Regions from separate parts of the Homo sapiens genome. Here regions 2 and 3 are each linked to region 1. The links come from fine-mapping of genetic effects on gene expression. A gene starts in region 1. Each other region holds a variant in brackets. All regions are shown on one strand. Distances are from middle to middle.

Region 1 (5,481 bases):
CGTTCTCAATAAACATTTGTTGACTAAGTGAATAAATTAAGTAAAAAACATTTCGTTAAGAATTTTCACAGTATTTTACATTATGGCACCCTAACAAGGAGCACTTTTATCATATTCTATGTTTATAATACTAGCCCTATATCTGAAAGACTGATTTTTAAAATAAATTTAATTGAAGTTGATGATGTGGGAAAATATATCAAACGGAAGCAATAACTTTAAACAGATTTTATTGCAAATCTGGTGCCACTATAAATCCTCGCTCTGCCCATCAACCTTCCCTCTCTTTGTCTCCTTCCCATTGCCTCTCCCCAGCCTCCCCCAGGTACTCCCAGTCTCATTATCCCATGATCTGTTAAAACTGCAGTTTACCTCCTGGAACCAGCAGAAACACATGTCACTGAGAATTAGGGAATTGGAGCCAGTTACAAGCCACCAAATAGGGTCACAAAGTATCTGAACCTGAAAATTAAGAGTTTTTCTATTTTGCTAAACATGAGAAAAGGGGAAAAACTCAGTTGGACTTATTTTTAAACATTTGAGCTAGATGGATTGCACAATGTTAAGAATTTATGACAAATGAGATGGGAGACAACTTTAACAGCATGTTACTCGCTAATCATTTGAAAAGTGGTATGTTTGATTTCATTTGCTGATGGTGGGAGGATATTATCTTAAAACATCTACCACAAATAAACACTTGCTATTCTTGAAAACAAATTGCTTGAAACTGGTATGTAGCGAGACAGTACTCACGTATTACTTCATCCAAGGTATTTTATGCCACACTTTATCCCAAGAAGAATAACTCCATTTTAAATTTGTATTAGCATTTATGTTAATTCTAACCAATGTTAAATAGCAACTAGGTACCAATCATGCTGCCAAATATTGATGCAGTTTAAGAAAAATAAGCAAGAAGCTACCGCTCCTTCTACATACCCCTTAAGATGTGTACTTTTGCCAAATGCTAGGCTGTATGTAAACAAACGGATTTTAAAAGAGGGGATAGGGCTGTCAAGATTCACAATTTTATGAAAATGAAAATGATTCTCATCTGCTGGGCGCGGTGGCTCACGCCTGTGATCCCCACACTTTGGGAGGCAGAGGTGGGTGGATCACCTGAGGTCAGGAGTTCCAGACCAGCCTGGCCAATATGGTGAAACCCCGTCTCTACTAAAAATACAAAAAATAGCTGGGCGTGGTGGCGGGAGCCTGTAATCCCAGATACTCGGGAGGCTGAGGCAAGAGAATAGCTTGAACCCAGGAGGCGGAGGTTGCAGTGAGCCGAGATCGCACCACTGCACTCCAGCCTGGGCGACAGAGCCAGACTCCGTCTCAAAAAAGAAAAAAAGAAAAAGAAAATGACCAGCTTGAGAAAACTGGCTTCTGTTAAGGCTTCTTGAAGCATTCTCTGCAGAAGACTTTAACCCCAAAGGTGACCAAAACGCTGAGGCAACTGAAAAAAACTACCGCCTCTTCTGGGAAATCCTTTGTTTCTTTTCATTGGCATTATACTCTGGTCCCTTTTGCAGAGCATCTCCTTGTCATAAACATGCCAATAAACAGGACATGGGTGCTGCTGGGTTGTACAAGCTCTGCTCTTCACCTGGGTTAGGAGGCACAGATTTGTTCTTGTAACGCTCGAGAACAATCACTTCACTGAATTTTCTAACTCCTTACCAGGAAGTAAATGTTTTATTCGTCTCCCCTTTTCGGGACAGAGGGGGATTTCAATTGCTGCCCTAATAACTAATCTCTCACCATTTTCTTCTGTCCGTGATCAAAACGGTAACAAGGGAAGGGAAAAGTTGGGTTTTTTTTTTTAATTTAGTTGGTTATTGCTTTAATGCTGAACTCTCAACGTCAAAATGTGATCACAAATTGATTCGCAGAAGGAAACAAATAGAAAAAGCCTCGGGAAGGAGGGGAGAGGGCGTCGCAGACGCTCAACAGGGAACTGGGTTTAGGGGCTCGCGGGGTGGCGTCTCGGACCCGCAGCTCAGTCGCCAAGGAAACGCCGCGCAGGCGCAGAGCGTGCCGCCGCGGGGCCGGGGTTTGCCTCCACCACCCCGCGCCGCTCGGGCGCTCTTGGTTCTTCCCAGGAAAGGGCAATGGAGTATATCCTCCTCGCGCTGAGCACACCTAGTCTCTAAGAGGTCCTGAGCAGGGTCACCGGGCGCAGGAAAAGCTGTGAGACTCCCCAAGTGTAACGGACGCTGCACTCCCCTTGCTGGGAAACGCGGACCTGCTCTCCTGGCGGCGTCTGGCGGTCAGAGAGAGGGTCCCGGGACCCCGCGTGAGGGTGAAGCATCCTGCAGCGAGGCTGGACCTTCCACCGGGCGAAACGCCACCCACCACCACCGCAAGGGACCCGAGAGTTACATTATTTCGCGGACACACACACCCACCCTCATCCTTCTGAATTATGGGACCCTGAAGAGCGGCCGTGGCCAGTTCCCCGCACGGGGCCTTAGGGGATCCCCACGCACAGCACTCACAGTCCTAAACAGGCGTGTGCCGGCTGTGGCTGCCGAGAAAGGAACTTGGGCCACCTGCTCACTCGCTCATCGGACTGGCGTACCAGTTCTCTTTTTCCTGCACACCCCCTTCTCTCCTGGGCCCCTTCTTCCCCCGAAAGCACTGACCTCCTCAGCTTTGAGTGTTCAGTAGCTGAAGGACTCCTCGGAGTCCGTGGCACAAGGAGCCACCTCCGAAGTGCTGGGGTGATGAGTTATTGGCCCCTGTGACTCCAACTCCAAACCCCTGCCAAGGGCCAGAAAAGCCCCCCTAGAAGAGCACTTCTCCCCACTAGCCAGCAGAAGCCCCAGACGAGCGGGGAAGAGCAGGGCGCCGCCGCCACAACCTGCTTTCTCATTCAAATCCTCACGCTCACACAGGAGCCCCCCTCCCTCTCGGCCCCGCAGCTTCCGAGGAAATCAGGAACTGGAGTTGCGGAGAGCGGACTGGAGCGCCTGCTGCCTCCTCTGGCCCGGGCGGGATGGGTGTACGGAACCCTAGGGCTGCACGTGGAACCCCAAGGCTGCACCTGGAACCCTTGGCTTACACTCTCCTGCGGGGCTCCCCGCTTGGCAAGGGCCAGAAGCACTGGGAATGAAGTACTTTTACTCCCCCGCAAGTTTCAAAAGTTTCGAAACCCAGGGTAACCCCTCGGGGCTGTAGCCAGAGGGCCTCGGTGGTGGGGGGTAAAGGAGTTGGAGAAACAAAGTTGGAAGTGAAGGGCGCAGGGAATGGGAACTGCGTGCAACTTGCACCAAAGTGAAAAGTGTTCTCAAACGTCCGTCTTACCTCCTTTAAAAAAAAAAAATTTCTAAGAATATAGCATCTGTCGATGCCGCAAATTAAAGAGATCTACTCTGAGTGAATGGGAACTGCGTGCAACTTGCACCAAAGTAAAAAGTGTTCTCAAACGCCCGTCTTACCTCCTTTAAAAAAAAAAAATTTCTAAGAATATAGCATCTGTCGATGCCGCAAATTAAAGAGATCTACTCTGAGTGAAGTGCAACTAAAATTGAGAGCGTGTAAATGGTAACACTTTGCTTTTATTTACCCCCAGTCTCTTCATTTGGAAATGCTACTCCTTGGCATTAACAGGCCACTTATTCACTTAGATCCGTTTAGTGGCTGGTTGACTCAAGCGGGCAACCTGCCGGGAGTAAGAAGGCGGCGGTGGCAGAGGAAAGCTTGCACGAAGCAGGCACTCAAGTGTTGATGAAACGATGAAATCTACTGAATGCACTGAAAGGATGAGTGACCAGCTTGGGGCGGATGCTGGAACCGCCGCTGGCCTAGACGGCCGCGGTGTGATCCGGCTTCTGGATTCCAGGATTTACATTTATCAGCCTTCATTCAACCTGCCCTATTGTTAGTTCAAAGCCTGGCTGGGAAGGAGTGGGGACGCAGCTCTTCACTCACCTTTCAGTTTAAAATAATCCTCCAATAAGAATGTCCTAGGAAAGCTGGCAGCATGGGGTTGGCAGGGATTTTCTGGGCTTAGTGACAACATAAACTAAAGTCATTTTCTTTTTTCATGCGTGAATTTGCCCAGGAAGTTACAAACGAGTAAGTTACAAATGAGTGCCTGAGATTGGAGCTCAGGGCCTTGGCTGCCTGTTCTCTTTGACAGACAGTGTGGAGGGTGGTAGCACTGTGACCTCTCAGCGCAAGATCTAGGGTTTCACCTTTTCATCCCACTTAGCCGATACCATAGAAACAACCCATTTGTATTATTCAATTCAACAGAGGCAATTACAATGTCACAGCAAAGCACCATGGGCAAGAAGAAACTTTGTCCTGAAAACAATCCTAGACTCTCAGAAAAAAGAAAAAAGCCACCAGAATACCCACTTGAATTTCTTCCTGCCAATAGTACCAGGAAGAAATCAATTTGGAAAAAATGTAGGTAAGGTCCTTTGCCTCTATAGAAAGAAACCTCCCCAAATTTACTTGTTTTTGTTTTTGTTTTTTTGCATGCCCATACACAAGCCTCAATTTATAAGAAATTAAGTCATTAACCCTCTGCCTCCAAACTGCTTTATATTTTGTAAACAAGCTTGTTGGAGATTTGTTTTGCTGGTAACCTCCATGGTGAATAGAAAAGCCAAAAAAAAAAAAAAAAAAAAAAAAACCACCAAGATAATCCCTCAACAGCAGCAGTTCACCCCCTAACCTCCGGTGTTTGTCTTTCTTGAGTCTGAAAAAATGCAGATGCACATGTTGAAATAAACTCAGACACAAAGTTCATAATAAGAGCACTTGTTTGCTATGCATTCTTTATTTTGATAGTTTTAATCAACTCCCATAATTTTGTAAACTTTTAAATTTTTAAATTGTGTGATATTTCAAACCTACCAAAAACAGGATATATACCATGTAATACTCCTGCTCCCCCCAGCCCTTCTTTTTTAAATAAAGCATTACAGATATAGCTAAACCCCAACTCCTGACTCGTTACCCCCACCCCTTCCCAAAGGTAATAATTCTGAAGTTGGTATGAATCATAATTATGCATGTTCTTAAATGTTTAGGACATTTATACATCCATAATCTTTTAATGTAGCTTTTCTCTCCAAGTCGTTTTAACATTATTTATCTGAGAAAAATCACTAAAACAATTAATTAATTAATTGGAGAAAATCACTAAAAACAAGAAAATGTGTTACATTGCTAAGTTTTTAGAAGCAGGACAGAACTATTTTTCCTGCTTGTGACAATCAGAGTATGGAATAATAACAAAGGGATTAGACAGTGGGTAATAAGCAGCCTCTCTAGGTTACACAAACTCTTCCATGGTTACCAAAGAATAAATAGAAAAACAAAACAAATAATACCCTCCTCTTTCACTGGTTAAAGGGGAACTGGAGAAAATGAGATCTTCATTAAAACTTCTTTGGGCAGGTAAGACAAACATCCTACATGGTAGTAAAGTACCTTTTCTAGAGGATCTCTTGGTCATGCAAG
Region 2 (5,481 bases), 190 kb before region 1:
TAGAAAACAGGTTTTGACCAATTCTAAGAATGAATATGTTCCATCTTTTCCATGTGCTGCTCTCCCTTAAAGCCCCAGTTGAAGTCCTGCCATGAAATTACATTGCCTCCTTGACTTTCCTGCTCCTCCTATATATTTGTTTTTTCATACACACCTCTTTTAAGTAAAATATAACCCAGTTTGAATTTTAATACCCTATTGCTTTCCTTTACATTTTTAATCACAAAATGATGTGGCCACCCAAGGTGGTTTTAGTACAAACACACAAAATTCACTGGAAATAAGTAAAACCACAAAGTCAGTGATCTGAAAACTGAAAGAACTGTCTTTCTGGCTATTCTTTGCATGAATAATATTTATTGTAGTAAGCTTCCTCTCTCAGAAAATCTGTTTATGAAATGTCATTCTGTTCACCTACTGCTCTTTCACACGTACATGAGTCCTGTGGGGCATTATTATGTCTGTGCCTGTGTTCCTCTTTGAAGTGAGCTCTTCTCACTTGCATAACCAAGACTGATCAACCATGAAGCTTTTTGTTTTTTTTGGTTTTTTTGACAGACAGTTATTGGAGCTTGAAATGGGAGAAAAAGTCTGAAAGAACTGCTTTCAGATATGGATACAAGGAGCCTTCTCCTTTCCTGAACCTCACGCTCCTACACACACATTTCTCTCTAGTGTGAACTATTACAGACTAAAATATCAAACATTTGGCTTACAGTATTGATGTTTCCACTTCATAAGTACAAATCTCAGAATATGTGCTCACTCAACAATAAGCTTCTTCTGAAGACACGACTATAAAAAAATTGGAATAAGGCGCATACATAGATCTAGACAATCCTTCATATATTGATTCTAATTATTATTCTCCCTTGAAACCCATTTTTATTCTTTAAGGGAGGGCAGGCTTAGCTGATAATGAATGTCTTTTATTGCATTACTTGAAGTAATTACCTTCACTAGAATTTTGCCTTTCAAACTTTGAGGGCTTGGAAGCTGCTTGCACTCCCCTGTATCAACAGATGACAGGTCCAGTTTGTCTCCGAATATTCCTTTCAGGTACTGAGCAATCTTCCTTTGCTGCTGGATACTGCAGTGATTCTCGATAGACAATATAACAGGAAACCTGAGAAAAGAGCAACACAGTCCAGAGGCGTCAGGTGCAGGCAACTCACAGGGACTTTTGAAAATGATTCAGTATTCACTGTGTTGTTACAATCCTAGTGACAGTATTTGCGATACTGATGATGGTTAAAATGCTTCTAAAATGAGAAAGATTAGAAATGCATTTAAAAAATTCCTCTGAGCAAATATACTTTGCTAAGCATAATGGATGAACAAAATACCAATCCACATGGGATGGCTTTTCTAATATTTTGCATCAGGAAACAATGGTAGATATATTATGTTTCTTTTAAAAGAAGAGAAAATTTTAAAAGAGATGAGAAGTCTAAAGAAAGTAAACTCATATAATGTAATTTTGTCTTATTTATTCAAAAGTCTAACAGCTTCTAAGAGACCACTGAATGTCATTAAATGAAGCTATTGACTCTAAAATATATAATTAACCCCCACCTTGAAAATTATGATTGAGGATAAAATAACATAAGGGAATTCTGTGTTTTATAGCATCCTACGTCGCACATTTCAAAATCACTTTGATAGAATTATATACTAGTCTTTGTCAAAAAATAAAAATAAAAACCAGCCAAGCATTCATTCTACACCAGCACTCAGGTTTCTGCACAGAAAACATGAGATCCATGTAAATAATTACCTAAAGGAGTTGGTGGCTAAGGCAGAAAGGAGATCAGGGCTGATTACATGATTTTACTCCTCTCTCAACCTTATTTTTTCCTCAGAATAAGAAATTATTTCAAATTCAGGTTCATTGACTTTTTTCTAGTTTTCCGTTACATGTCTTCAGACATAATAGGCAATATATTTAAATCACCTAATATATCAACATATACCAATATTTAAATCACCTAATATATCAATGTGCAGAAAAACTTTTTCCAGGCTTTCATGACAAGCACAAGTTCCACAATACGGGCTATGACCGCCAGACCTACCTTCTCTCCTCATTAGTAAAACCTGATGCTGTGGGCCATCTTACAGATGAGCCTTTGTGGCTGAGGTAGGTTTCCTTACTCGACTACAATCTGTTTGCTATTCATTTCTTCACATAGGTTTTACCCTAAAGTGCTAGAAGAGGGAAAAGCAACAGCAACAACAAACTGACAACCCTGAGTTGTCCTGCAGTCACATCAGGGAGTTTTAACAAGGAATTTTCACATTGTCAATTCATTTACAAAAAATCTATTAGTGGCAGGGAGTGGTGGCTCATGCCTGTAATCCCAGCACTTTGGGAGGCCGAAGCAGGCAGATCACTTGAGGCCAGGAGTTCGAGACCAGCCTGGGCAATATAGTGAAACACTGTCTCTACTAAAAATACAAAAATTAGCCAGGCATTGTGGCACGTGCCGGTAATCCCAGATACTCAGGAGGCTGAGGCAAGAGAATCGCTTGAACCCAGGAGGCGGAGGTTGCAGTGAGCTGAGATCATGCCACTGCACTCCAGCATGGGCGACAGAGCAAGGCTGCCTCAGAAAAAAAAAAAAAAAAAAAAAAAAAAAAAAAAAAAAGCCTAATTAGTGCTTGATGATGTTTAGTGTAAAGCTGTGCTTCTCAACAGGGAACGAGGCAATTATTCCCCCCAGTACAGGAGACGCTTGTCAATATCTGAAGACATTTTTGGTGGTCACACTTCAGGGGTGCTATTGGCACATAATGAATAGAAGCTGAGGATGTTGCTTTCCACCCTA[C/T]GCTGCACAGGACAGCTCTCTACCAAAAAAAAAAAAAAAAAAAAAAAATTATCAGTACACAATGTCATTAGTGCCAAGGTTGAGAAACCCTGATATAAAGATGCAACCAAAGTTAAGAAAGGAGAGGAAAAGGCTGAACTTTTAAAATGTACTAAACAAGTTTATTAACTCTTTTAATTTGAAGTGCTTTTCTTCTAAGAGTTCCCAAACTTGAAGTAAATTGTCAAATCACCAGAGGATCTTCCAAGATACATAGGTGGCAGGCCTTCTCAACACCCTACTTCATACATTGGGAAATAAAGGCAAAATTACTTCACCCATTTGGCTAGGACCTGTAGAAATCAGGGTTGTAAAGACCCATTAGAATGCAGTGTTCAAGATTCTTCCACGTGGGAGGCATCATAAACTAAATCTGCTATACAGCAAGTGTGTCTTATTAGAAAAGCATTTTTAACCTCATGTTTAATTAATGAGAAGACCAAATATTGGAAATTTTAAAGGCTACTAACTTCTAAAAAATTAATTTTACACAATTGTAATTTTAATTTGTTTCCTTTAATTCAAAAATCCTTTCTTGAATAGCTGGTATACTGAAGGTACCTGCTAGGCAACAAAAATGAATACAAAATAATAAGAGATTGCTCATATTTTCAGTGAGTTCACAGTCTTACAGATGTAAAAGAAGGCAAGTAACCAACCAATTGCAAGAGGGTGCTATATGATATGACAGAAATATGTGCAGGGTGCTAAATACAGAGAAAATATGGAGAAAAAGAAGATTTAAATCAGCTGGTGGTATTAGTAACTTGTTGGAGGGACAATACTTAAACGGCCTTGTAGAATAAGCAACAATTAATCAGATAGACTAACGGGGAAGGTTGTTCCAGGCAGAGAGAACAGCATACGTAAGAGTGGGGAGTTGAGAAAGAGCCAGGCTCAATAGGGAAGCTGAAAGACAGTCATTGAAGGCAGAATCCTAAATCTCTGTGGAATAATGGTGGAAGATGATAGTGGAAGACAAGGGAGATGCCAGACCTTAAGGGATATGAAGACATGCCTGTGTATTGAGAGAGCTTCTGACAGGCTTTAAGACAAGAATTGAATCACCATGCTCATATTTCAGAAAGAAAATTATAGCACCAGTGTTGAGGATGAACCAAAGGGGAAATAAAAATGAACAGGAGGCAATGGAGTCAAAAGATAACTTGGGAAGTAGAATTGCCAAGAATTGGTTGAGTCTAGAATGACTCCCAGTTTCTGGCTGAGGCCAGTGCTGCCCCTAACTATTAATAAGAGGAAATGGAGCGAGAATCAAGAGGAAGTTTGGCAGAATGAGATGCTGAGTTCCCCTTGGGGAGTAAGCTCCTTAATGGCAGGAGTCTTATCTTCTGCTCACTGTTGTGGCTCCCCACACCTATGGGATACTCAGATGAATATTCACTGAGGATTTTTATTTTTATTTTTATTTTTCTGAGATGGAGTCTCACTCTGTCACCCAGGCTGGAGTGCAGTGGTGCAATCTCAGCTCACTACAACCTCCACCTTCTGGGTTCAAGCAAATCTCATGCCTCAGCCTCCCAAGTAGCTGGGATTACAGATGTGTACCACTACATCCACCTAATACTTGTATTTTTTTAGTAGAGACAGGGCTTCGCCATGTTGACCAGGCTGGTCTCAAACTCCTGGCCTCACGTGATCCACCCTCCTCAGCCTCCCAAAGTGCTACAGGAGCCACCGTGCCCGGCCTCACTGAGTATGTTTCAACATGGGCCTAGAACTTGAGGGGAAAGTTCTGGACATAGAATTTGATAAATATCCAGAAAGTGATCTAGGGCAAAACCTTAGAAAACAGTTAACCATTAGAGGAATGAGGAAATAGATTAACAGAAGACTGCAGTACAAAAAAAAGAGATTGAGAAGCAACGAGAGCAATGGAGGGGAGAATGATATAATGGAAACCAAAAAAGGCAAGTAGTGGGGAGGAAATATTCAACACTGTCAAATGACAAGGAGAGGGTCAAGTAACATAAGGACTCCAGACACCTCAGTGTATAGATAAGACATCCATCATGATCAGAACCCACTAATTATGTACACAGTAACCTATGTTTCCAGATTTTATGGACACTCTACACCCTGGATTTAGAAATTTAGAGGTCACTATTTGCAAGAATGTCTTTAAGGAGGCATATTGAGAAAGAATGGGACAAGGAATAAATGCAGCATGAGAAAGTACAAACGGGAAGGCCACATTATTTGTTCACAATGTTTTGCTGAGAAGGAGGGAGAAAACTAGTCTAGCAAAGAGGGCAGTGTAGAGTCCAAGGAAGAGGATGTGGTTTTGTAGCTACGTTACATCAGGCAATGCTCCATGCGGGAGGCTACCGCTTAGCTCACAGGTGCTGCTTTACTTACTCATTCTTCACAAAGGCATGCTTGTTGATGGTCTCCACAACATCTCTGAAGAGAATTTTTGAAGTGAGAGTGTAACCATGATGTACTACTGGCTCTCCATCTGGGCCATCCCAACAGTCAACTGCCAAAAACAGAACTTTATATCAACAACCCAAAGTCTCTGGTGTTTATTAATATTTCTGGAAATACCAGACACATATTAAGTCCATTATCTGAAATTATACCCATTTCAATCCTG
Region 3 (5,481 bases), 54 kb before region 1:
TTGGAATGACAGAATACTGGCTTTTAGAATTAACCCCCAGGAGCAAGATGGCAGAACAGAAGCCTACACCATTCATCCCCACTGCTGGGACACCAAATTTTAACAGCTATCTGCACACAGAAAAGCACCATCACAGGAACCAAAAATAAGGTAACAGCTCAGCCACAGTGGGGTAGAGCAAAAACCAGGTTCTTAGGGTCCCTGAGTCCAGGCCTAGGCTTTTGGACAGCATTTCCAGACCCGCCCTGGGCCAGAAGGGAGTCCACTGCCTTGAAGGGTGGGTCCCAGGCCTGTCAGCATTCACCACTGCTGATGGAAGAGCCCTTGGACTTTAAGTGAACACAGACAGGGGCCTAGCAGAAAGCCCCCATGGACCAGTGGTAGCGGGTGGCCACAGAGAAAGGCTCCTCTGCCTGTGGAAAGGGGAGGGAAGAGCAGGAAGAACTTTGTATTGTGGCCTGAGTGCCAGCTTAGCCGCTGTAGAATAGAACATCAGGTAAATTGCTAAAGTTTTTTACTTCAATCCCTGGCTCCCAGACAGCATCGCTGGACATGCCTGGGGCCGGGGGGGATCTTGCCATCCTGAAGGGAAGGGCCTAGGGCAAGTCCCAGTCAGTGCCATGCTGGCTTCAGGTCTCACCCAGCACAGTCCCAGTGGTTGTGATTACAGGGGTGCTTGCATCACCACCCTCCCAGCTCCCCAGTGGCTCAGCAAAGAAAAAGAGAGACTCTATATGTTTGGGAAAAGTAAGGGAAAAAGAACAGGAGTCTGCCTGGTAATCTAGAAAATTCTTCCAGATCTTATCTAAGACCACCAAGGTGATAACTCTACGAGTCTGAAAAAAACACAGCATTATTGGACTTGGGACCCAAGTCTCTTTTAATACCTGAAAGTCTTTCCAAGAAGAACAGGCACAAACAAGTTTAGACCGTGAAGACTACAATAAACACCTAACTCTTCAATGCCCAAACACCAAAGAACATCTACCAGCATCAGCATCATCCAAGAAAACATGACCTTACCAAATAAACTAAATAAGCCACCAGGGACCAATTCTGGAGAAACAGAGATATATGACCTTTCACATAGAGAATTCAAAATGGCTGTTTTGAGGAAAAGTCAGAGAAATTCAAGATAACACAGAGAAGGAACTCAGAATTCTATCAGATATACTTTAAAAGAAGGTTGAAATAATTAAAAAGAACCAGCAGAAATTCTAGAGTTGAAAAATACAGTTGACGTGATGAAGAATCTTTTAATAGCAGAATTGATCAAGCAGAAGAAAGGATTAGTGAGCTTAAAGACAGGCTATTTGAAAACACATAGTCAGAGGAGAAAAACAGAAAAAAGAATAACAAGCAATGAAGCACACCTATAGGATCTAAAAAATAGCCTCAAAAGGGCAAATCTAAAAGTTATTGGCCTTAAAGAGGAAGTAGAGAGACAGAAGTAGAAAGTTTATTCAAAGAGATAATATCAGAGAAATTCCTAAACCTAGGAAAAGATATCAACATTCAAGTACAAGAAGGTTAAGGAACACAAAGCAGATTTAACCCAAATAAGACTATCTCAAAGCATTTAATAATCAAACTCCCAAAGGTCAAGGATGAAGAAAGGATCCTAAAAGCAGCAAGAGAAAAAAAAGAATAAAAAAAAAAAAAAGAAAAGAACATACAATGCAGCGCCAATACGTCTTGCAGCAGACTTTTCAGTGGGAACCTTACAAGCCAGGAGAGAGTAGCATGACATATTTAAAGTGTTGACAGAAAAAACTTTTACCTTAGAATTAACTTTGCCACTAGCTGGTTGCTATCAATATGTACCAGTCACTTACCTTCTCATCTATAAAAGGAGAGTGGTTTTACTCAGAGGTTTATAATTCACAAAAAGGGTAAGGAATAACAGATTATTCTGAAATATAATGAAAGCTAAGGACTTTGTTCAAAGGAAGAGGATGCACAAATGTACATGCATATCTACATAGAGTATCTAGCATAATGTTTGCAAAAATTTCATAAGTGTCCTGAAGCCTGGCTATGGGTTTTGCTCAGAATCCCTTAATCAGAGGGCTCCCCTAGTCCTTGCTATTATAGATCAGGGTATTACGTATATCCTTGACTATATCTTCATATGTTTTAGACACAGAGATTCAAATTTTTAAGCCCATTGTACAAAGAAAATTACCTGCCAATTCATAGCCCTCATGTTTCCTCCTTGGGAATCTGAGTATCAGGATACTGCTGGGGGTCTTGGTCATCAGCTGTGCTCCTTACACACAAGTTTCCAACCTCTCAATGCTTTGTATGATGAAAAACAGTTCTCTTCTCCCTCACACCCATCCTTTTTCCATGTGCTCCTTGGAGAATAGGACAAATTCCTCACTCCAGAGGACTAATACCCAAGCCCGGTGGTCTCCTAAAGCAATGCTGCTCATACTTAATCATCTGAGGACCTTGTTAAAATGCAGATTCTGGCTCAGAAGTTCCCTGGTGGGGCTGAGAGTCTGCATTTTTAACAAGCTCCCAGGGACCACTCCAGTGGACACCAACTCTTAGCCCTCACCCCTAGTTCCTCAGCCCCCTCCCCACACTCAGCCTAAGGGCAACTCACACTGTGTCTCTAGAAGTTCTCTAGTAGCCTTTGAAGA[A/G]AGGGTGTTACAGCTCTTTTAAAACACAAACCCACCCCCTCAGCAGCTTTAAAAGAAACAAGTTTGTGTAATGCATTGCTGTGTCACAATAGTGGAAAAACCCTGGATTTGAGAGTCTGACAAACCTAGGTTTGAACTCCATAATCTAACAATGTGACTTGTGGCAAATTGTGATTTCTGTGAGTTTCATCTGTAAAATAGTCTTGTTGAGAGACTTAAAAGAGGTAATGCTACTCCAAAGACAACCTTGACTTAGCATCAACCTAACATTTCCTAATGATCCCTCAAGAATATTCTAACATAGAGTCCACCAATTCCTCCCGACAAGGTCTAAACTCAGTTATAGCAACAACCGTCTCAAATTCCTCTTTGTGTTCCCCTTAAGATCCTATATGCAAAGCCGGAGATATTGTGCAAAACAAGAGCAATCTGAGAAGGCAAGGTTTCTTCTTCACAACTCTGAGACTTCTAGGAATAACACAGAGAACCTGAGCATCAGTTTTCTCACATGTAGCGTAACAGAGGTAGAGCAGATATCTACAGGGACTGACACAGCTTGCCTTCCACAACAAAATGCACAGGGGTCTCTAAGTCTCTGGATACCACTTAGTTTTCCAAAGTAGACAAATAAACACAATTCTAGTTAATATTTAAGGTTGCATCTGATATACTCCAAATGATGGCATTGTTCTCTCAATTCCTGCATTTCATATTTCTTTCTGTGCCAATTCTTCAAATTATCCTACTGTGAACTGTGTAGTTCTCATCATAGATTAATCAAAACAAAACACTATTAATATGTTCTTTGTTATCTGTTGTTAAGGACCTTCCCAAAGTATTTCTACTTATCATCAGAAGACCGTGTACAACATTGTGAGGTCAATTAGTGCTCAAAGAATCGCTTGAACCCAGGAGGTGGAGGTTGCAGTGAGCCAAGATTGCACCACTGCACTCCAACCTGGCAACAGAGCGAGACTCTGTCTAAAAAAAAAAAAAAATTAGTGCTCAAAGGTATATCTTTGTATCATGATATCATGTATCAATATATCTGTTGATATATTGGTAGTAAAGTTAAGGCAAATCACATTTTAAGGACACTAAGAAAGCCTATTAAAGGAAATATGAAATAAATTTGTTACAAAAAAGGAAAATAACCATATGAAGGTCAGCATATCACTTCCCCCTTCCTCTCTGCAAATAGTCTATAAAGTCAAGATTTTCATGTACCACTTTTGCCCAAACTAGTGTACAATTATATGCTGTATTAAATCAGTAAACTCATACCTGATTTTGTGTACTGATCAAATCAATACTTTAGTCAACCAACAACTTCAATGCAGTGATTTTTATCCCTCCCATGTCATCAAAATCACCTGAAGATAGATAAATATACAGATAAAGAATGAATGAATGAATGGATGGATGGATGGATGGATGGATGGAAACATCTGGGTCCCATGTTCCAGAGATGATTTACCTGGGCTTGGGTTGAGTCCAACCATCATTGTTTTTGTTTTGTTTTGTTTTGTTTTAACTTGGTAGCTGGGCACTTACCACAGCAACATCTTGTTCCGTACTGTTGCCTGCTTCTTGGGAATACCTTGCTTTTCCTACTCTCTCCCGTAGCTGCCTGTGGTTATCACAGCAAGGATTCTCTGAGCCTCATTCTCCTCATTAGCGAAATGAGGATAATATTAGTCCCTCCAATCATTAGCAATTTTTTTTTTTTTGAGATGAGTCTCGCTCTGTCGCCCAGGCTAGAGTGCAGTGGCGCCATCTCCGCTCACTGCAAGCTCCGCCTTCCTGGTTCACGCCATTCTCCTGCCTCAGCCTCCTCAGAATAGCTGGGATCTCCTGCCTCAGAGTAGCTGGGACTACAGGCGCACGCTGCCACGCCCGGCTAAGTTTTTGTATTTTTAGTAGAGACGGGGTTTCACCGTGTTAACCAGGATGGTCTCGATCTCCTGACCTCGTGATCTGCCCGCCTCGGCCTCCCAAAGTGCTGGGATTACAGGCGTGCGCCCGGCCTAATCATCAGCATTTTTTAAAAAGCACCCTAGCAGATTCAAATGTATAACCAGATATGAGAATCACTACTTAGTCAATGGTTTTTAAATCACTTTAAGAAAGCACAGACTTGCCGGGCGCGGTGGCTCACGCCTGTAATCCCAGCACTTTGGGAGGCCGAGGCGGGTGGATCATGAGGTCAGGAGATCGAGACCATCCTGGCTAACAAGGTGAAACCCCGTCTCTACTAAAAATACAAAAAATTAGCCGGGCGCGGTGGCGGGCGCCTGTAGTCCCAGCTACTCGGGAGGCTGAGGCAGGAGAATGGCGTGAACCCGGGAAGCGGAGCTTGCAGTGAGCCGAGATTGCGCCACTGCAGTCCGCAGTCCGACCTGGGCGACAGAGCGAGACTCCGTCTCAAAAAAAAAAAAAAAAAAAAAAAAGAAAGCACAGACTTAAAACACATTATTGAGATTATAGACTATTTTTCCCATCTTTACTCTTTTCTATGCTTTCCAAATTTTCTACAGTGAACCTGTGTTGCTATCATCAGAAAAAATAAAGTGAAAAAATATTTTTAAAGAAAAACAGCAGCGGCTGGATGTGGTGGCTCATGCCTGTAATCCCAACACTTTGGGAGGCCAAGGAGGGTGGATCACCTGGGGTCATGAGTTCGAGACCAGCCTGGTCAACATGGTGAAACCCCGTCTCAACTAAAAATACAAAAATTAACCAGGCATGGTGGTGTGCACCTGTAATCCCAGCTCCTTGAGAGGCTGAGGCAGGGGAATCACTTGAACCCGGGAGGCAGAGGTTGCAGTAAGCC

Evidence for each region. PIP is the estimated chance that this variant, and not a neighbour inherited with it, causes the effect. A credible set is the group of variants that fine-mapping cannot tell apart.
Region 2: its variant is the best candidate, but not a certain one, in a credible set for the expression of PLCH1 in cerebellum (GTEx, PIP 0.72).
Region 3: its variant is the best candidate, but not a certain one, in a credible set for the expression of PLCH1 in prefrontal cortex (CommonMind, PIP 0.70).

What each region holds. Positions count from the first base shown.
Region 1 is chr3:155,742,192-155,747,672 of GRCh38, forward strand. PLCH1 (phospholipase C eta 1) reads right to left here and starts at 2,880. Exons shown (of 23, transcript NM_014996.4): 1 at 2,649-2,880. RefSeq lists enhancers at 2,117-2,738, 2,633-2,842.
Region 2 is chr3:155,548,833-155,554,313 of GRCh38, forward strand. PLCH1 (phospholipase C eta 1) reads right to left here. Exons shown (of 23, transcript NM_014996.4): 9 at 5,244-5,364; 10 at 955-1,126. Among named protein-coding and RNA genes, the nearest start is that of PLCH1-AS2, 66 kb to the left of the region's middle. The variant C/T (reference allele first, on the strand shown) is at 2,829.
Region 3 is chr3:155,688,398-155,693,878 of GRCh38, forward strand. All of the region lies in intron 2 of PLCH1 (phospholipase C eta 1), which reads right to left. Among named protein-coding and RNA genes, the nearest start is that of PLCH1, 54 kb to the right of the region's middle. The variant A/G (reference allele first, on the strand shown) is at 2,649.